Homo sapiens: one gene and its partners. The protein of the gene in region 1 purifies or fractionates together with the protein of each later gene. This does not show direct contact. Each region holds a gene or a part of one and is shown on either strand. Other genes may lie near its edges.

Region 1 (7,013 bases):
CGTGGTGGCACGTGCCTGTAGTCCTAGCTACTCGGGAGGCTGAGGCAGGAGAATCACTTGAACCCGGGAGGTGTAGGTTGCAGTGAGCCAAGATGGCGCCACTGCACTCCAGCCTGGCAACAGAGCAAGAGTCCATGTCAAAAAATAATCATAATAAATAAAATAAAAATAAAAATACAAAAATTAGCTGGGTGTGGTAGCAGGCCCCTGTAATCCCAGCTACTCTAGAGGCTGAGGCAGGAGAACTGCTTGACCCCGGGAGGTGGAGGTTGCAGTGAGCCGAGATTGTACCACTGCACTCCAGCCTGGGCAGCAAAGGCTGCCCATCTCAAAACAAACAAACAAACAAATAAAAAAACACACACAAAAACATTGAGCTCAGTTTCCTCAACGAAAAAAGGAGCATATACCTAACCTACCTTCCTTGCTAGGCACTGAGAAGGGCCAATAAAATTATGTTTATAAAACTTAGTATTTTAATGTAAGAAAACACCCCCCTCACACACAAACACATTTCCTCCCACCAAACAACCTCCACAAGCTTGGAATCAGTCATCCTGGGTAATGGATGACTAGATGTGGGCCATGGAGGTATCTGACAGAAGAAAGGTGACTACATCAGGACAGAACTTGACTCAAAACTAAATTCTAAACAAAATATTTTTATCCTACAAAACAGCTCAATGAGCCACTCCCCACAGCTAATCCTCCATCTTTCATAGAGGTCATCTGGCCACAGTGGCTAGACCTGGGCACACGCAGGGACAGAGCAAAACAGAAGAGGGGCCTATGGCACTATCTGGATGGAGAGGAAAACTCATGTGCGCTATTTTTCGGATGACCCTAGGCTTGTATTATTAGAAAAGTGCTTTCCTTCCTAGGACTTCTCCTTCCAAGGCCTATACTCAGTTAAGAGAGAGACTGAAAAGAGATGGTGCCTGGCCTTAGATTAACTGAGGTGCTGTTGTATGCATGCTGCTAATGGATCATTAAAAAAGCTGGGAGTCAGAAAAATCACATCCATGTCTTTGAATGGCTCCTGCTGTCCCAGCAGCCTAGCCGGCTGGCAGAACTAGCTGCTGAGCACCAACTCCAGGAAGAAAAGGAGCAAACAGAAGAAGGCCAACCCAGCTTGCTGTTTTTTTGGCTGAGTAGGGAATTGACACAGACCACCTCCAGCTCCTGTCTGGAAGTTTCGAGATCAGAGAGCTTCAGGCACAGCTGGGTTCACAGCTGCACCATTTGGAGCATTGGGCTCATTAATATTCATGAGCCATCCCCACCAATCGGCAGAGCGGATGCCATTAGCTTAGCATCTGTCGGGTTTTTGTGAGGGTTGCACATGGAGTTTTTTTCCCCTTTTAAATGAACTTCTTCTGACATTTTGGATTTGCCTCTGTAGGTTTTCTATCCTCGCCTTGCTCTGCTGCATCATATAAAGGAGAGACCCAGGGGAGGCGGGCAGGAAAGAGGGATGAATACCAGCCAGGGCTTTGCATCTGCCTGTTGACAAACTTTATTTCTCTTTCAGCACCTGGCACCTCAGACAGACTGCGAGGATGGAAGCAGCATCAGGTAAATTATACCTAACAAGGTTCACGCCCAGAACTGTGAGAAGAGTTGGATCCCAGCTCTTTGGAAGACAATCCTTCCTCCAGTGGTGAACTTGAGCTGCACACACAATGCAGGAGGGCTACAGAGCACAGTTCTGAAGCATTATTTCCACACTGATAAATTCATGATTTATGAAAGGAAATACTGCCAGCGCTCACTCCCTCCTTCTCTGCTACAGCTTGTTAGACACAAATTGCAACAACAATCTTAAATACTTGCATTTTATTTCAGGCCAAAGCCCCTCCACTCTGAACTAAATGCCATGACAGTCCCACAGCATAGGCTGGTAGTAAAAGAGCCCACAGACAGGGTAGGATAGCCAGAGGAGGGAGGAGTGGGCGACAGGGAGGGGAAGGATCACACACACAAACCTAAGAGTAGAGCAATGCAGAATGCCTGTGGCACTCGGCTCCTACCAGCTCTGGCTCTCAGTGGAGATGAAGAATGGCAGCAGGAGGACAGAATGCCTCATTGTCTGAAGGAGAGCGTGTTGTTTCTCATCTCCATCCCCAGAGCCCTCTCTTTCAGGCAGGCAGAAACAAAGCCCTTGCACCCCACTGCACTGCGCAACACAGCAGAGACGCTGGTGGCGGAAGCCCTGGAGGCAGGGAGCTGCTACCAAAGGAGAAGAAAAGGATTCCAAAAAGAAAGGAGCCCACTCTAACCCTGCGGAAAAGATGGCCACATGTCTGCTTTATAACCAGAAGAGACAGTAACAGCCCGGGACAGCCTTTCCCAAAATAAAGGCCCCTGGGCTGTTACTGTTCCCTCTGGCTGTGGCCAGCCACTTCTCTCTCATGCATGACCATGAGCTGTTGTGCAGGTCTCAGGCTCCACTCAGCCAGGCTAAGGTCTCGGGACATAAATCCCCAGCAGCAGGAGTCACAGCACCAGTTCCATTCAGTGGTATCAGTGAAAGAAAAAGCAAGGAGGTGGGAAAGTAAATATTCATCCCCCTGTCCATGCAAGGAGGTAGGCAAGAGGCCAGCCTCCCACAAACAAAGTGCTCTAGGGCTACAGCAAAAACTGAAGCCAGCCAAGATGGGGATACAACATAACCACTCCCAGTGGGATGATGTTCAATATGGCAGCTTAGAATTTGCCACATACGGGTCCCCAAAACTGGTCACCTGAGGAGATACTCCTGGTCCTACATACAAATGACCTGCAGAAACTCAGATCCCAGGAGAGTAATATAGGGTTCTGTTCAAAAGCAACAGCCCCTGTGTCTTATGTTTAACTTACAAACATCTGCACAGTATTTGTTCCCATGGAAGAGGCATAAGGGGCTGTAATGACTGACCTCTGTCAATCAGCCCAAGCAGAGGTGACTAGAAGACACTAAGCAGCCCAGCCTCCCACATACCTGCCCTGTGCCCAGTCCCACCTGAGTAAGTCTCCTGGCCCGCATCTTCTCTGACCATCTCAGAGCAGAACCCAGAGCTCACTTTTCCAAAACTGTTTCTAACTGACCAGGGTCCAAAGGCACAGCATGATCTCCTCCCACAGCCCTCCTCACAGACTGAAGAGTGGAGGTTCCCTCTTTGGGTCTTCCAAAATCACAGCATAATGGTGAGGAGAGGGGTGGGAGAGTGGGACTTTCCAAGGAAGGAACCTCAGAGTCAACAACTGGAGCCCACACTTCTAAATGGTCCTTTTCTTCACTGGGAGGCGGTGAGGGAGAGCTCCTCCTACCCGATCTTGGAAGAAAGCAGCAACTGGAAAAGAGTGGGAAAGGGAAAAGAAAGGTATGAACAGCTTGGGTAACATAGGGAGACTCCGTCTCTACAAAAAAATAAATTAGCCAGGGATGTTGGCATGTGCCTGTAATCCCAACTACTCAGGAAGCTGAGGCCAGAAGATTGCTTGAGCCTTGGAGGTCAAGGCTGCAGTGAGTTATGATTACACCACTGCACTTCAGCCTGGGCAACAGAGTGAGACTCTGTCTCAGAAAAAAAAGTATGAACATATAAACAAAAATGAACAGAAAGGGAAGTCTCTCTGAGCCTGTTCTGACTCAGGAGGCTGCCCGATTAAAAAAAAAAAAAATGGCTGGGCATGGTGAATTATTTGAGTCTGGGAGGTGGAGACCAACCTGGGTAACCTGGTGAAACCCTATCTCAATTTAAAAAAATAAAAAAGAGGCCGGGCGTGGTGGCTCACGCCTGTAATCCCAGCACTTTGGGAGACCGAGGTGGGCAGATCACGAGGTCAGGAGATGGAGGCCATCCTGGCTAACACGGTGAAACCCCGTCTCTACTAAAAATACAAAAAAAATTAGCCGGGCATGGTGGCGGGCGCCTGTAGTCCCAGCTACTCGGGAGGCTGAGGCAGGAGAATGGTGTGAACCCGGGAGGCAGAGCTTGCAGTGAGCTGAATCGTGCCACTGCACTCCAGCCTGGGCAACAGAGCAAGACTCCATCTCAAAAAAAAAAAAAAAAAAAAGGCCAGGTGCGATGGCTCACACCTGTAATCCCAGCACTTTGGGAGGCTGAAACGGGTGGATCACCTGAGGTCAGGAGTTCGAGACCAGCCTGGCCAACATGGTGAAACCCTATCTCTACTAAAAATACAAAAACTTAGCTGGGTGTGGTGGCAGGTGCCTGTAATCCCAGCTACTAGGGAGGCTGAGGCAGAAGAGTTGCTTGAACCTGGGAGGCGGAGGTTGCAGTGAGCCGAGATCATGCCACTGCATTCCAGCCTGGGTAACAGAGCAAGACTCTGTCTCAAAAAAAAAAAAAAAAAAAAAAACAGATAAATGCAAGTGAATGGATAAACAAAATGTGGTATATAGCACCATATAAATGGACTGCTATTTAGCCATAAAAATGGGGGAAAAAAAGAGAAAAAAACAGTAATGAAGTAATGACACATGATAAAATACAAATGAACCTTGAAAACATTGTTAGATGAAAAAAGCCAGTTACAAAAGACCACAAATCATATGACTCCATTTGTGTAAATGTCCAAAATAGACAAATGCATAGACAGAGAAAGTAGACTAGTGGTTGCCAGGAGCTGGGGGGGAGGGAAGGACAGGGGAGTCACTACTCATGGGTACAGGGTTTCTTTCGGGGTGATGAAAATGTTCTAAAATTGACTGTGGTGGCTGACAGTTATACAACCCTGTGACTATATTAAAAACTACTGAACTGTATCTAAAAAGGTAAACTTTATGGCAGGTAAATTGTGTGTCAATAAAGCTATTAGGCCAGGCTTATGCCAATAATCCTAGCACTTTGGGAGGCAGAGGCAGGCGGATCACCTAAGGTCAGGTGTTTGAGACCAGCCTGGCCAACATGGCAAAATCCCGTCTCTACTAAAAATACAAAACTTAGCCAGGTGTGGTGGCACTTGCCTGTAATCCCAGCTACTCAGGAAGCTGAGGCAGGAGAATCGCTTGAACCCAGGAGGCAGAGGTTGCAGTGAGCCGAGATCACGCCACTGCACTCCAGCCTGGGTGAAAGAGTGAGCGTCCGTCTCCACACAAAAAAATAAATAAATAAAAAGGGAGGGAGGAGGAATAAAAAACCGAATAAATGAGAAAGCTTTCCCTTCTTTCTCCCCAGGTTTCAGTAGGAGCCCCTGCTACCCAGTGGTGGGTTAACACAGACCCACCTGGATAGAAAGCCACGCACCCAAAGAACAAGAAAGGTTGTGAAAGGCTACCAATGCTATGACATTACTTTCCCTAACAAATGGACACCTCTCTGGTCCAGGTTATAGCAAACCTAGCCCCTGCTATCTCAAAGAGTACTCCAGTTACCTCTTAGGCTGGTCTCCTTTAGCCAGGTGAGAAGAGCTCTGCCTCTCTTCCTGGGCCCAGCCACAGTTTGACATAGCATATCGAAGAATGGCATCAGACACAGTCATGGTACTTCGGCCCTGGACACAGGCTTCTATCTCAGGCACCGAGAGCTGGCTTTGCAGGAATAGGTGCAACTGGCTGTCTGACAGGAGAACCACACTCTGCAGGACCCTGGGAAAAACACAGGTAGCACAACACAGAGCATCACCCTGAGGAACTGCTCTCCATTCCCCATCCTCTTAAGAACTTCTGGCTACCTGAGCAGGGAGCTCCATCCTGCCTGGCACATTCCTCCACCCCTGCCTCCACCCTTGGTGGCCAGCACCAGCCGTTCTGTCCACTCACTTTTCAAGGAAGTGCTGCAGACCTTGTCGTCGCTTCTCAATGAACTCATCTGAGGTGCCGAAGAAGGTTGACTTCCCAGGAAGTTCAGGAACAGGCCTGTGCAGCCACATGATATAACACCCATGATAAGTGTAACATCTAAGATAGTCATTCCGGCCTCTGATCAAGGAAATCCCTTAAAAAGAGGTCTAATCAATACAAATAGCTTTTTTTTTTTTTTTTGAGATGGAGTCTCGCTCTGTCGCCCAGGCTGAAGTGCAGTGGTACAATCTCGGCTTACTGCAACGTCTGCCTCCCGGGTTCAAGCAGTTCTCTGCCTCAGCCTCCCGAGTAACTGGGATTACAGGTGCAGGCCACCACACCCAGCTAATTTTTTGTATTTTTAATAGAGACGGGGTTTCACCATGTTAGCCAGGATGGTCTTGATCTGACCTCGTGATCCCTGCCTGCCTCGGCCTCCCAAAGTGCTGGGATTACAGGCATGAGCCACCGTGCCTGGCCCCAATTAGCTTTTAATAAGGGGTGGTGCTAACATTGACTGCATGCCAAGTGTCAAGCCAGACTGTGCTAAATGTTTTATAAACATGATTTCATTTAGTCATCCCAAAACCCCGTGAGAAAGATATTAACTCACTTCAGATCAGAGAAGTTAAGTAAATGTCTCACTGTTACACAGCTAATAAGCAGCAAAGCTCATATCAGAACCAGATCTATGACTATAAAACCCATGCTGATACATTATTTTTGTCTGTTTGATTTTAGAGACAAGGTATTGCTTTCCAAGCTGCTCTCTCCAGGTTGCCCAGGCTGGAGTGCAGTAGCATAAACGTGAGCATAGCTCGCCGCAGCCTCAAATTCCTGGGATGAAGTAATCCTCCTGCATCAGCCTCCCAGAATAACTATGACTACCGGTACGTGCCACTGTGTGCACCTAATTTATTTATTTGTTTACTTATGTATCTGTAGAGACAGTATTGCTCTGTTGCCCAGGCTGGTCTCAAACTCCTGGCCTCAAGTGATCCTCCTTCCTTAACCTCCCAAAGCACTGGAATTACATGTGTGAGCCACCAAGCCGAGCCACACTATGTTGTTTATGAAACCCACTCCCAGCTTGGTGCCATGGTTCATGCCTGTAATCCTGGCACTTTGGGAGGCCGAGGTGGGCAGATCACTTGAGCTCAGGAGTTCAAGACCAGCTTGGGCGACATGGTGAAACCTCATCTCTCCTTTAAAAAAAAAAAACAGC
Region 2 (7,677 bases), on another chromosome or scaffold:
AGGTGCCGGCAATCTGAGGTCTTCTTAATCTACGTAGGGAATGAGATTATTTGAAGCTGGCCTTTAGTCCCCATGAGTACTGTCGATTCTGGATTCACCTTTAGTCCTAGGGTATACTGGGTGAGGGGAGGGGAGTTTCAATCCCAAACCTAAATTGCGGATCCTAAATTGCAATTCTTGTAATCTCATCTATCCCACCCATGAGTCCATTAGAAATACCATTCAGAGGCCAGGCGCAGTGGCTCAAGCCTGTAATCCCAGCACTTTGGGAGGCCGAGGCAGACAGATCACCTGAGGTCAGGAGGTCGAGACCAGCCTGACCAACATGGAGAAAGCCCGTTTCTACTAAAAATACAAAAATTAGCCGGGCGTGGTGGCAGGCGCCTATAATCCTAGCTAATCCAGAGACTGAGGCAGGAGAATCGCTTGAACCCGGGAGGCAGAGGTTGCAATGAGCCAAGATTGCGCCATTGCGCTCCAGCCTGGGCAACAACAGTGAATGAAACTCTGTCTCAAAAAAAAAAAGAAAGAAAGAAAGAAAGAAATACCATTCAGCCTCATTGCTGCTGCTGCTTTTGAGATTGACAGATGTCTCTCAGAGAAGCGAGCTCAAATGCTGGGCTCACATCACTGGCTTTCCTATTTTTTAGAACTTGACCCTGCAATTTCTTCATTTCCCTGATAATGCTCTAATCCCCTCACACATAAGCTTTCTATATCTTACATTAAATATTTAATATTTTCTCTAGCTTTTCTGATTATTCTCAGTTGGAAGTTTGGTCCAAACAATCTACCTCTTGCATATAAAATTGTCCCCCCAACTTTTTTTTTTTTTTAAGATGGAGTTTCGCTCTCGTTGCCCAGGCTGGAGTGCAGTGGCGCAATCTCAGCTCACTGCAACCTCCGCCTCCCAGGTTCAAGTGATTCTCCTGTCTCAGCCTCCTGAGTGGCTGGGATTACAGGCGTTTGCCACCATGCCCAGCTACTTTTTTGTATTTTTAGTAGAGATGGGGTTTCACCATGTTAGCCAGGCTGGTCTCAAACTCCTGACCTCAGGTGATCCAGCCGCCTTGGCCTCCCAAAATGCTGGGATTACAGGCGTGAGCCACCGCGCACGGCCGCCCCGCTCCCCCTAACCCTTTTATTTTTTTAATTTGAGACAGAGTTTCGCTCTTTTGCCCAGGCTGGAGTGAAGTGGCACAGTCTTGGCTCACTGCAACCTCCGCCCCTCGGGTTCAAGCGATTCTCCTGCCTCAGCCTCCGGAGTAGCCGGGATTATAGGCGCCCACCACCATGCCTGGCTAATTTTTTTATTTTGAGTAGAGTCAGGGCTTCGCCTGTTAGCCAGGCTGGTCTCGAACTCCTGACCTCAGGTGATCCACCCGCCTCGGCCTCCCAAAGTGCTAGGATTACAGGTGTGAGCCACTGTGCCGACCTATGTCCCTCTTTTTATTCTGAATATTATCTGTGCATTTTCTTAGTACCATGGATGTTTTTCATTTTTATAAGTGTTTTCAAAGACAAAACTTTGTCCCTATTCAGTATTTCTGATGGTTTTTAAAATTTCACTAATTTCTACCTTTTTTTTTTTTTTACTATATTTCCTTCTGCTCTCTTTAGATTGATTTTCCTATTATTTGCAGATAACTTTGCTATTCTCTTTCATGAGATGAATACTTAGCTCATTAATTTTCCTTATCAGTTTATTAAAGACTATAATTTTCCTACTAAGTACAGCTTTACTTGTATCCCACAAGTTTTGAGACATATGATTTCATTATCATTTAGTTCTGAACATTTCTAATTTCCATTATAATTTCCCCTTTGACCCATGAATTTATCAATTCTTTTTGAAAATGAATGAGACTTTTCTAGTTATCTTTTTTTTTTTTTTTCTTTGAGACAGAGTCTCATTCTGTCACCCAGGCTAGAATGCAGTGGCAACCTCAAACTCTGAAGCTCAAGCAGTCCTCCTGCCTCACCTTCCTGGGTAGCTAGGACCACAGGCACATGCCACCACACCAGGCTAATTTTTAAATTTTTGTAGACAGTCTTTCTTCCTTGCCCAGGCTGGTCTTGAACTCCTGCCAGATCCTCCCACCTCAGTTTTCCAAAGTGCTGGGATTACAAGTGTGACCCACTGTGCCAGGTCTCTGGTTATCTTTTTAATTATACTTGTCTCTTGACTTCCAAAAATATAAAATATATAATATATATTATATAAATATATATTTTATGTATGTATTTTTATATATTTTTATATATAAATTTTATATATAAATATAAATATATAAATATATATTTATATTTTATATTATATAATATATTTATATTTTATATTATATATTTTTATATTATATTATATAAATATATTATATTTTTATATTATATTATATAAATATATTTTATATTATATATTATGTATTATATATTTTATATATTACATATATTATATATTTATATAATATATTATATAAATATATGTTTTATATATTTATATATTATATAAATATATATTTTATATTATATATAATATACTTTTACATAATATAATATATATATTTTTCTTGAGACAGGGTCTCATTCTGTCGCCCAGGCTGTCGCCCAGGCTGGAGTGCAGTGGCGCGATTTTGGCTCACTGCAACCTCTGCTTCCGGGGTTCAAGTGATCCTCCCACCTCAGCCTCCTGAGTAGCTAGGACTATAGGCATGAGCCCCACAACTGGCTAATTTTTGTATTTTTTGTAAGGATGGTCTGGAACTCCCAGGCTCAAGTGATCCACCTGCCTCAGCCTCCCAAAGTGTTGGGATCACAGGTATGAACCACCATGCCAGCTAGTTATCTTTTTATTTACTTCTAGTGATCACATTGTGGTGAGAAACTGTATTCGGTATGATACCAATCTTTTGAAACTTGTGGTCTCATATGTGAAAATTTTATAACTGTTCCTTGTGTGTTTGAAAAATATAAGGATGAAGCGGCTGTTACATACAGTTAAGTGTGATATTCAAAGAGGTTAAAAATTCAGGCCAGGCACAGTGGTTCACACTTATAATCCCAGCTCTTTGGGAGGCTGAGGTGGGTGGATCACCTGAGGTCAGGAGTTCAAGACCAGCCTGACTAACATGGTGAAACCTCATCTCTACTAAAAATACAAAATTAGCCGAGCGTGGTGGTGCATGCCTGTAATCCCGGCTACTTGGGAGGCTGAGGCAGGAGAATTGCTTGAACCTGGGAGCTGGAGGTTGCATTCAGGCAAGATCGCGCCATTGCAGTCCAGCCTGGACAACAAGAGTGAAACTCTGTCTCAAAAAAAAAAAAAAAAAAAAAGAAAAGAAAAGAAAATTCAGTGGTAATATAAATTAACATAAATAAAATTTAAAAACATTTTCTAAATAAATTAACCTATATAGATTATAAAAATGCTCACCAGGTGATAACCATTGTAGCTCAAATTGTTCATTAAATCATTCTAGTAATTTTCAATCATTTATTAATTTTTGGAAATTGTAGCCATAATCTTTTATTTGACACAGATGCCCTTGTCTGAACCATGAATTGACATAGGAAACTAGATAAAGCCCTTCTAAGAATGTCCACATTAAATTTATAGTCATTAAATAACTTGTAGTCATGATACGTTAAAAAAAATCACACTTTTTAAAATTTTTTGTAGAGACAAGGTCTCCCTATGTTGCCCCAGCTGGTCTTGAACTCGAGCTCAAGCAATCCTCCACCTTCAGCCTCCCAAAGTGCTAGGATTATAGGCATGAGCTGCCATACCTGGCCTAAAAAAAAGAAATCACTCTTAACATCAACAGAATTGTTCATGGGAGCTGAATCCTCTTTTTGGCTTTTGCTGAAGTAACAGTAAGTATATTTTAAAATGTTTTTAGCCCTTCAAATGCTTGCTGTTAGTTTCATATAGTCAATATTTGTTTAAATATATTAATAACTAAGTCACAAAAATAATTTATTGATATACTTAATTATATTAAACCTAATCCCTCAGTCCAGGTGAGAGGTAACGTAACACAGCAGTTAACAGCATACACCAAGGTACAGAACCTTCATTTAATAAACTTTCTGCTTCTTAATTCCCCCAACTAAATGTGTCTGGTAGACAGAAAAAGATGTATTTTGGTAGTCATTTTCATTTATAACATGAGTGTCATTAATGCCTACTGTAGGCAGGTATTCATTGGGTGTTGGCACACTTATCCTATCTAAATAATGGGGAAATTAAACAAGAATGATAAAACTAAGGATGTGCATCCCAGAAGTTATTCATCCATAAACCATCCCCACAGGCCTCGATCATCTGCTGTAGATTCTATCCTGCCATGGGAATGTATACTGTGCCAAGAGAATTAATATATTTTGATGGCAACTGCGGTAGTACAGTACTATTACTCTCATTTGACTGCTCTTCTTTCTGGATCTCCCGGGGCTGTAGTTCCCAAAGGGGCCATGTGAGAGTGATATGAGAAAGGTAGGCAGCCCTACTCTTAGGGAAGCCAGATGGTCACTGGGCCTATGGATTTTTTTGTGTGTTGGAGGTTGCCAGGCACGGGTGAGGAGTAATTAGAATGGCTGCTGCCCTGTAGTTCTCCAGTGAGATGTTTGCTGACAGTCTCTTGCTGTCCTAGTTCTTAACTCTTTAGTTGCTATATAATTGGTTACTATAGGAAGTCCCAAGGAAGGCGATGAAGCATTAAGATGACACTTAACAGGCTTGGGACAGTAACTGTTCAACCACTATGGACATATCAATATTTTAACAACTAGTATAGCTGAACCAGTATCAGCTGAATAGCAGGCCTGAATGTAGTCTACGAATGCCATTAAGAGTAAGATTTTAAGAGGTACTGTTCTTTTATTTATTTTTTAATTTTATTTTATTTTTTGCAAGACAGGGTCTCTGTTGCCCAGGCTGGAGTGCAGTGGCACAATCCTGGTTCACTGCAGCCTCCACCTTCCGAGCTCAAGTGGTCCTCCTGCCTCAGCCACCTGAGTAGCTGGGACAAAGGGACACGTCACCACAACCAGCTAATTTTTGTACTTTTTGTAGAGACAGGGTCTCCTTATGTTGCCCAGGGTGGTCTCAAACTCCTGGGCTCAAGTGATCCACCTGCCTTGGCTTCCCAAAATGTTGGGATTGTAGGCGTGAGCCACTGCGCCAAGCTACTCTTTGTCTTTTAATTAGAATATTTAGTACCTTATAGTTATTGCAACTAGTAATGTTTGGATTTATTTTCAGCTATTCTTTGTGCTTTTTATTTATTATATCTTGTCTTTTTTTCTTTTCCTTTCTTGCCTTCTTTTGGAATTTTTTTCTCATTCTGTACTTTTTCTTGTACTAGTCTGGAAATTATAATCTTTCTTGTCTTTTGGTTCCTTGAAAATTTTAAATACCTATTAAAGCCCAAAGTTAACATATATTATTATCCCCCCAAATACATAAAAACTTAGAATGTCACTTATCATTTATTTTTATTTTACTTTGAGATGGAGTCTCACTCTGTCACCCAGGCTGGAGTGCAGTGATGTGATCTCCGCTCACTGCAACCTCTGCCTCCCAGGTTCAAGTGATTTTCCTGCCTCAGCCTCCCAAGTAGCTGAGATTACAGGTGTATGCCACCACACCAGGCTAATTTTTTTGTATTTTTAGTAGAGACAGGGTTTCATCAGGTTGGCCAGGCTGGTCTCACACTCCTGACCTCAAGTGATCCGCCCGCCTCGGCCTCCCAAAGTGCTGGGATTACAGGCATAAACCACCACACCCGGCCTCACTTCATAATTTATATGCTATTATTGTCTTCTATTTTTGTTCCATCTCTATTAATCCCAAAAGACATTATCAGATTAACATGTACATACATATTTAACACTTTTTGTTCTTCATTCCTTCTAGCTTCTCAGACCTTCCGTTTGAAAATAATTTCCTTCTCTCTGAACTTAGAATTCCTTTATTGGAGGTCTGCTGGCAAACTTACTCAGCTTTCCTTGTCTGAATATGTATTTATTTCATCTTTGTTCTTGGCAAGGACAAAGAACCTATGTTTGTTGGGTATAAATCTAGACTGAGGGTTTTTTCCTAGCATATTGAAATAATTACCACTGTCTCTATATTTATATTATGGTTGAAGACTAATTGGCTATCACTCTCATAGTTGCTCCTTTGAGGCCTTTTTTCTCTACTTTTTTTTTTTTAAATGGAGTTTTGCTCTTGTTGCCCAGGCTGGAGTGCAGTGGTACGGTCTTGGCTCACCGCAAGCTCTACCTCCCAAGTTCAAGCGATTCTCCTGCCTCAGCCTCCTGAGTAGCTGGGATTACAGGCATGCACCACCACGCTCGGCTAGTTTTGTATTTTTAGTAGAGACAGGGTTTCTCCATGTTGGTCAGGCTGGTCTCGAACTCCCAACCTCAGGTGATCCACCCACCTCAGCCTCCGAAAGTGCTGGGATTACAGGCGTGAGCCACCGTACCCGGCCCCTTTTTCCTCTGTCTTTTAAGATTTTATATTTATTGTCCCACAGTTTCACTACAATATGTCTAGAAAGAATTCTTGCTTGGGTTTGTTGGGCTTCTTAAATCATGGCTTGGTGCCTTTCTTCAATTCTGGAAAGTTCTCAGCTATTATGTCTTCAAATAGTCCCCCTTACACCATATGATATGCTTATATGGTATAAGCGTACCATATAGTTAGCCAGAGTTCCTGAAGAAACTGGGACTATTTTCTTTAGGAACTCTGGCTAACTATATGGTATGCTTTTTCTCTCTATGCTCTGTGTTACTAAATCTCCTTTTCATATTTTCAATCTCTGTGTTTTCCAGGTCTGTATTCTAGTTAGTTTCTTTGCTTCTATTTTCCAATATGTGAATTATCTCTATAGCTGTGCCTAATGTGTTCTCATGGAGGACAGTTTGACAGGGTCTGACATACTATAATTTATTAACATTATCAATTTTACTTTTTCAAAATGTCATTTTAGAAGGTGATACACTTATTTTGACAATGTTTCTATCACTTAAAACATTTTTTGAATTCTTTAGAAAATACCTTCTAACCCATTTATCTTTTTTATTGCCAAATTCCTTATATTGTGGTCTCTATTAAATTCATAATTTTAATTTTTACATTCTGTGTCACCCCCTCCTTCTCTGTATTGAGAAGTCCTTGAGGGTGACAGTGGTTATGCTACCTGGTAAGCTGATTTAACTCATATTTAACTGAAAGATATGAGAAATTACCTCATTTAACACGGATATGTCATCTATCTGTAAAATTACTTTAAGTCCTACACAAATGTAGGGCATACTAGATGAAGTAAGAAGACTGAAAAATTAAAACACTGAAGTATTTTCACTCATCACCCTGATAAACATGAAAAAGAATGGCAGTATGCAGTGTTGCCAAGGGTATGAGGAGACAGGCATGTGTCTAGAATGTAGGAATCAGAATATAGTAATGAGAATTAGTATGATCTTTGCAGAGGGCAATTTAACAATAGATATAAAAATCTTCATAACAATAACTCATTCTAGGGATTTATCCTAAAGATATAAATATAAAATATTTGTTCAAAGAGGTTTTATTTAAACTAATGAAAAATGTTAATGTTGTAGAAATATATTTATTAACATAAGCAGTTCACAATTTACTGTAAGAAAAAA
Region 3 (7,677 bases), on another chromosome or scaffold:
AATATTTTAGATTCCTTATAGTTTTCTACTTTCCCTCATATTTCTTGTTGTTTACTGCTACGTATTTTATTGTAACAACTGGAGTGTTCACGTTAAATTTCTGCTGCTAATAATCTACCACCAAGTTTTAATGTTAACTGATAGTTTGGAATATAAATTCACTTCATGTTAAGGAACTTCTCTCCTAATCATAGTTAACTCAGAGTTTTTAGCAACTATTGATTTTTAATTTTATCAAAAGCCTTGGAATACATTGAAGTCATCGTACGGTAAAGTGGCAGACAAGGTTATAGAATTAAAATGCCAACAAAAAAAGAAAGCAAGGAGACACTATTATTACTATTACTATTATTTGAGACAGGGTCTCGCTCTGTTGCCCAGGCTGGAGTGAAGTGGTGAGATCTCAGCTTACTGCAACCTCCGCCTCCCAGGTCCAAGTGATTCTCCTGCCTCAGCCTCCCGAGTAGCTGGGACTACAGGCGCCCGCGACCACATCTGGCTAATTATATTTTTAGCAGAGACGGGGTTTCACCACATTGGCCAGGCTGGTCTTGAACACCTGACCTCAAGTGATCTGCCCACCTTGGCCTCCCAAAGTGCTGGTATTACAGGCGTACATCACCCCACCTAGCCAGAGGACACTATTATTAAGAGACAAAGCAGGCCAGCGTGGTGGCACATGCCTGTAATCCCAGCGCTTTGGGAGGCCAAGGTGGGCGGTTCATTAGCTCAGGACTTGGAGACCACCCTGGCCAACATGGTGAAACCCCATCTCTGCTAAAAATACAAAAATTAGCCGGGCGTGGTGGCATACACCTGTAGTCCCAGGTACTCAGGAGGCTGAGGCAGGAGAATCACCTGAACCTGGGAGGCAGAGGTTGCAGTGAGCTGAAATTGTGCCACTACACTCCAGCCTGGGCGACAGAGCAAAACCTTGCCTCAAAATAAATAAATAAATAAATAAATAAATAATAAAAAAAAGAGACAAAGCAGAACAACAAGGTAGCTTTAAAAAGAACAAAAATAGTCACTTTACATTAATAGGTAAAATCATAGCATAACATGAAAGTGGCAAATCAAGACACAATTTTTATGTGCAGAATAATGCCGCATCAAAATACACATGAAAAACCTCTTAGAAACTGGGAAACACAGCAGTAGGATACTTTAAACTGTTACCATGACTTCTCTCAGTCTGTTACAGATCAGGTAGGTAAATTTAAAAACTACACTGAAGAATATAAGCTCTCACTGTTGCCAGGTTTCTACCTGCCTCGGCTCCTATTCACAGTGCTATACTTCAGTGTGGGTATCTCCTACAGTGCCAGTGCTGCTGCCAGTCTCTCTCTCTCCAGTTCCTATCCAGTTGTTTTGCTGGATATGCAGTCATCCACAGAATACTGAGGAGAGGGAGAGTTACCAGTCTTAATTACGTGCCCAAGTGTCTTCAGTCAGGGGACAGATGGTGGGCAAAATGCAGAGCATCTTCCTACTTCTTCAGTCAATCTGTTTCAACAACTGAAGCCAGTGAAGGCAAATGTTAAAGTCTGGGTATGTTTCCCTCATTCCTGCTCCATCTGCCTTATAATCAGGGTCAATTCCTCAAAGATTTTCGTATTATAACACTACCCGTTGGTCTTAGAGCCACATAATGAAAAAAAAAAAAAAGCCTAGCAAACTTCTAAAGCAAAATTCAAATCATACAATTATACACATCAGGTTTACTAGTACTAAAAACTATAAACCAATCCTAATAAGTTGTAGCTTAAATTCAATACAAAAAGTTCTAAATAGAAACTTGGCCTTATATAATGAGAGGCAGTATTAAGCTATGGTTAAATCATGAGCTCTGGAATCAGACAGGTTGGGTTCAAATCCTAGCTCTATCATTTACTAACATTATAACATTGAGAAAGTTATATGTCTAAGTATCCTTATATATTTCAATGGCGATAATACATTCCTTGTAGTTTGCTGAGGGGATTAATCAAATTAACACATATAAAATGATTGAAACAGTCTGGGTCTATAATCCCAGCGCTTTGGGAGGCCAAGGCAGGTGGACTGCTTGAGCTCAGGATTTGAGACCAGCCTGGACAACAAAGTGAGATCTCACCTTAAAAAAAAAATAAATAAATTAGCAAGCAAGGTGACATGAGCCTGTAGTCCTAGCTGAGGCTAAGGCAGGAGGATTCCCGGAGCCCAGGAGCTCAAGTTTGCAGTGGACTATGATTGTGCCACTGCACTCCAGCCTGGGTGACAGAGTGAGATCTTGTCTTGAAAAACAAAACAGTCTGGCACACTGTAAACATCCAAGAAATATTAACAACTGTATTAGTTATAATTACATTGGTGATGATATTAGATGTCACTGCATGCTATGTGTCCCTAATGATAATGGGGGAACAAGTCTTTAATTTTCTCTGACCTATTTCTAGTAAGTTGAGCAATCTGCAACATTAAAGAAATGTGTGGCCAGGCATGGTGACTCACGCCTGTAATCCCAGCACTTTGGGAGGCCAAGGTGGGAGGATCACTTGAACTCAGGAGTTCAGGACCAGCCTGGGCAACATAGTAAGATCCCATCTCTATTTTAAAAAAAAATTATATATATATGTGTGTGTGTGTGTGTGTGTGTGTGTGTGTATATATATATATCATTACTTAAAAAAAATCCTATTCTATATATTCAAGTTATCCATTTATTTCCTTAGTCAAACAGTGGCATAGTTCATTTTTTCAATTCAAAACTAGTACATGGGTATGCTTAATTCCATATCATAATTTTTCCACTGGAATTAATTTTCACAGTGCTGAATATGGAATGTATATACTCAATAACCCTGTGGGGAGCTTTTGAAAAATTCTAACACTTAGGCCCCACTCTTGAGATTCTAATTCAATTGATCCGGGTTAGGGTCTTAGCATTGGCACAGGTTGAGCATCTCTAATCCAAAAATCTGAAATCCTCCAGAATCTGAAACTTTTTGAGTACCAACATGATGCCACAAGTGGAAAATTCCATATCTCACCTCAAGTGACAGGTCGCAGTCAAAACACAGCCAAAACTTTGTTTCATGCACAATATTATTTAAAATATTATGTAAAATTCGTTTCAGGCTATGTGGTTAAGGTGTATATGAAACATGAATGAATTTTATTTTTAGACTTGGGTCTCATTCCCAAGATTATCTCATTATATACAGGTATATATTTCAAAATCTGAAAAAATTCCAATAACCAAAACACTTCTGGTCCCAAGATTTGGGATAAGGAACTCTCACCCTGCATTTTTTCAAAGTCCCACAAGTTGGAATTGAATAAGGTCACTAGATTGTATTAATATCAGTTTCTTAATTGTGACACTGTACTATAGTTATGTAAGATACTGCCACTGGGGATAACTGGTCGTAGGGTACTTACTGGTGGAAGAGTATTACCTGTAATTATATGTGCATCTACAATTATATTAAAATAAGACTTTTCAAAGTTCCCCAAATGATTCTAATGTGAAGCTATGATTGAGAACCGGTGCAATAAATACATTCTGATAGTAATACTGGATTTGATTGAAGAAGTCAAGTCTTCTTAATTTGATCACTAAACAGGTATCAGGATATAAATGAAAAAAGTGAAGACAGTATCTTTTTTTATTAATTGAATTTTATTGAGGTATAATTTACAAATAATTAAACACAACCATTTTAACAGTTTGACCCAGGTATATACTTACATAACCACTCTGTCAACAGAGAACATTTCCATCACTCCAGAAAGTTCCCTCTTGCCTTTTTGCAGTTAATTCCCCCTACTTCATCCCAGGAAACCACTGGGACTTTAACACAACCTGTGTTGTTTTTGCCTTAAAAAAAAAAAAACAACAAAAAAACAAACAGCCGAGCACAGTGACTCACACCTGTAATCCTAGCACTTTGGAAGGCTGAGGTGGGCAGATCACAAGGCCGGGAGTTCGAGATCAGCCTGGCCAACATAGTGAAACCCGATCTCTACTAAAAAATACAAAAATTAGCCAGGCATTGTGGCGCATGCCTGTAGTCCCAGCTACTCGGGAGACTGAGGCAGGAGAATCGCTTGAACCTGGGAGGCGGAGGTTGCAGTGAGCTGAGATCATGCTGAGAGCTAGACTCCGTCTCAAAAAAAAAAAACAAAAACAAACAAACAAATTAGGCTGGGCACAGTGGCTCACACCTGTAATCCCAGCACTTTGAGGTCTGAGGTGGGAGGATCACTTGAGCCCTGGAATTCAGGACCAACCTGGGCAACAAAGTGAGACCCTGTCTCTACAAAAAATTTTAAAAAATAATTAGCCAGGCGTCGTAGCGCATGCCTGTAGTCCCAGGTACTTGGGAGGCTGAGGTGGGAGGATCATTTAAGCCCAGGAGTTTTCAAGGCTGAAGTGAGCTATGATCAGGCCGCCGAACTGAAGCCTGGGTGACAGACTGAGACCCTGTCTCTAAAATAAATCAACAAACAAAACCAAAAGAAATGTCTTTCCTCTCTTACACACATGGGTATATGAGTGTGTGAGTATGCGTATGTCTGAGTGAGTGATAAAAATCCACTCCCTTAATATCATGAGTATGTGTGTCTATGAGTGATTAAAACTCAATAATTTAACAAATTTGTTTTATGAAATGAAGAGTGATTGAGAACTGTGTGGGACCCTGGTGCTTCCGAGAGATGATGGAGGGTGCAAACTGGTAGAAAGGATGTGAAGACTAAGAGAGGAAATCTGGGCCACTTGGAAATATGTAGCCATTGTGAGAGTAGAAAGTCTTCTGCTACTCATTCTCAGCTTTTTCCCTTCCCTCAGGCTAGTGAGAGATAGGAGTCTTGGAACACAAACTATAAGGCCAAGGTGGTAACAATCCATAATAACACAAATTTATTCACATGGTATTTATGATAGTCTTACAAAGCACTACATGTTAGCTCTTAGAGAGATAGAATGAGAATAGGGAGAAATCTTAGTGATAAGTGAGTATAGTTGCTCATTTTACAGATGAAGAGACTTAGGGAAAGGTTAAACAGCAGGGCCAAAGCCATAGAGCTGGTCAGGCTCAGGATCACACTCCAATTCCTTTACTTATAGTCCAGGTGATTCCATAACTTTGTGCTCTAGCAGGTAGAATTACTGTAAGAGATCCAAGACCTTGGGCTTTTTTCTCAGCATGTATTGATGTGCACAGCATTTATCCCTAAGTTAGAACATGCAGTATTCTAACACACATGTAGTTACTAAGCCCTAAGTTCTAAAATGCTCCATACAGATAGATGATTGCTTTAATTTATTTTGCCAAGTTTATTCATAAAATGGAATATCACATCAAAATTTTTAAGCATATTTAAGTCTCCCCATGAATATTGTATTTTAACTCAAAAATAATTTTTATACAATTTTCATTAGAAAATATATACAAATTTATAATCATTCTTTCTTAGGTTTTCCTTATGTTACCAATTATCATTTTATTTTCTAAATAACATTTCCCCCATCATTAGAAATCTGGGTTGCCAGTCAGCCTTTATTGTTTTGATTACTTCATCAAGGATCAAAATGTTTCTCTAGCAGAAACTCACTTTCATTTCTAAAGTTGTAGATAAAAAAACAATGGCAGAGAAGTAATCAAAAAGACAATCTCTTTTAAAGAATAGCAGCATATCCTTTGAAGGAAATTTGCTTCCAACTTACCTTTGGAAGGTGTAATTGGATTCTCTTTTCAATTAGAGCCCTGGGGTGTCCTCTTATCTCTTTGACCAATGCCTTGGAACATAAATGCTACATCAACATGGCAAGTAAGCCAAGGTTAGACAAGAGAATTACTAAATTCAATTAGGGTTAGTTCCTAATAGTTTAAGAAGGTAGGGAATAAAAAATTTAATATTCAGACACCTTACCTATTGGCAGAGAGATCTTTCTCTTTTTGGAGTTTGGCTTAAAAACAAAGCAACCCTATAAAAAGAAAGACGAAAAGCATAAAGTCAAAGTAGCCAAGGAGCAGAGAAATCTGATTAACCAAATATTTTATGGGTAAGCACTTTTTTAAAAAAAGATGTTAGGGGAGAGAACACATTTCTTTCAGGTTCTAAGAAATCACATCACTTCTCTCTGACCTATAGAAGGAAAATTCTAAAACAACAAGGGGGACTATCTACTCTCTCCCCTCCCTCCCATGAGATGCCCATTTTTGATTTTGCTCTTTGACACCTGATCTAAGAGGTAGACAAAGAAAATAAAAGCTGATTAAATTTAAGCCCAGAAAGGTTCCATTTTCATAAACTTAAAGGAATTAATACTACACATTAAAATGGGCTGGGCACAGTGGCTCATGCCTGTAATCCCAGCACTCTGGGAGGCCAAGGCGGGTGGATCACAAGGTCAGGAGTTTGAGACCAGCCTGGCCAACATGGTGAAATCCTGTCTCTACTAAAAATGCAAAAATTAGCCAGGCGTGTTGGTGTGAGCCTGTAATCCCAGCTACTCGGGAGGCTCAGACAGAAGAATCACTTGAACCCTGGAGATGGAGGCTGCAGTGGGCTGAGATCGTGCCATTGCACTCCAGCCTGGGCAACAAAGAGCGAAGCTCTGTCTCAAAAAATAAATAAATAAAAATGAAGATTAAAAAGGTTGAAAATAGTGATGTTCTCCCAACCCGAAACTTATTTAAACTCGAAGTATCTATAACCTTAGTAGTAAATAGATAATTGCAGCTGTTTCACTCTACATACTTCTCTTCATCTGATAAATGCCTACTCATTTATCCATTAAAGTTTGACTCAACACTCATCTCCTTCAGGAAACCTTTCACAATTCTCTAGCCAGAAATTCTCCTTTCCTCGAGATCTCTCAGTACTTGAACATCTTTATTTTGCATTGTTTTAAGTCACTTTAATTGTATATCGTAGTTGTTTATGGGTGTGTCTCCCTGAGTAGACTGTGAGTGCCTTCAAGCACAAACTGTATTTTATTTATAATTGTTTCTCCAATGTTTGGAATAGTGCTAACATACATATTAGGCAATCAGAATATGGAATGAATAAATGCTTGCCAAATAACTGTCCTGGTAATTTCCCAGCTATGTTTAGTTTCATATTATTGTTTGACCAGTGGTAGATCACCCCCAAGTTAGTGGTCCTAGTCTATTCTACCAATTCTAAAGTCATACATGATGGATAGCTTATAGTTTTTTTTTGTTTGTTTGTTTGTTTTTTTGAGACAGAGTCTCGCTCTGTCGTCCAGGCTGGAGTGCAATGGTGCGATCCTGGCTCACTGCAACCTTTGCCTCCCGGGTTCAAGCCATTCTCCTGCCTCAGCCTCCTGAGTAGCTGGGATGACAGGTGCCCACCACCATGCCTGGCTAATTTATTGTATTTTTAGTAGAGACGGGGTTTCACTATGTTGGCCAGGCTGGTCTCGCACTCCTGATCTCGTGATCCATCCGCCTCGGCCTCCCAAAGTGCTGGGATTAGAGGCATGAGCCACTGCACCCGGCCTGATGGATAACTTCTTAAATATTTCGATTTCTATGGAAAATAAAAGACAGAATGAAAGAACGATACCTAGGAAAAGTTGTCTCAGGATAGTGTTAAAGACCGCTGTGCAACTATAAAGTAGCCATTTGGATTACATGTTCCCATTTAAGAACTGTGCCTTAG

What was found.
Region 2: the proteins of SNX11 (region 1) and DCAF10 purify together in Homo sapiens (affinity purification with mass spectrometry; 4 studies listed by BioGRID and IntAct, with this or other methods). This does not show direct contact.
Region 3: the proteins of SNX11 (region 1) and ORC3 purify together in Homo sapiens (affinity purification with mass spectrometry; 3 studies listed by BioGRID and IntAct, with this or other methods). This does not show direct contact.

What each region holds. Positions count from the first base shown.
Region 1 is NC_000017.11:48,117,554-48,124,566, reverse strand, and holds the end of SNX11 (sorting nexin-11), read right to left. Parts: intron 5,864-7,013; coding exon 5,768-5,863; intron 5,594-5,767; coding exon 5,381-5,593; intron 3,333-5,380; coding exon 3,059-3,332; 3' UTR 966-3,058; downstream 1-965. UniProt on the Homo sapiens protein: Phosphoinositide-binding protein involved in protein sorting and membrane trafficking in endosomes. Regulates the levels of TRPV3 by promoting its trafficking from the cell membrane to lysosome for degradation.
Region 2 is NC_000009.12:37,803,312-37,810,988, reverse strand, and holds part of DCAF10 (DDB1- and CUL4-associated factor 10), read right to left. Parts: intron 1-7,677. UniProt on the Homo sapiens protein: May function as a substrate receptor for CUL4-DDB1 E3 ubiquitin-protein ligase complex.
Region 3 is NC_000006.12:87,592,650-87,600,326, reverse strand, and holds part of ORC3 (origin recognition complex subunit 3), read right to left. Parts: intron 5,977-7,677; exon of another isoform or gene 5,975-5,976; coding exon 5,920-5,974; intron 5,801-5,919; exon of another isoform or gene 5,714-5,800; intron 1-5,713. UniProt on the Homo sapiens protein: Component of the origin recognition complex (ORC) that binds origins of replication. DNA-binding is ATP-dependent. The specific DNA sequences that define origins of replication have not been identified yet.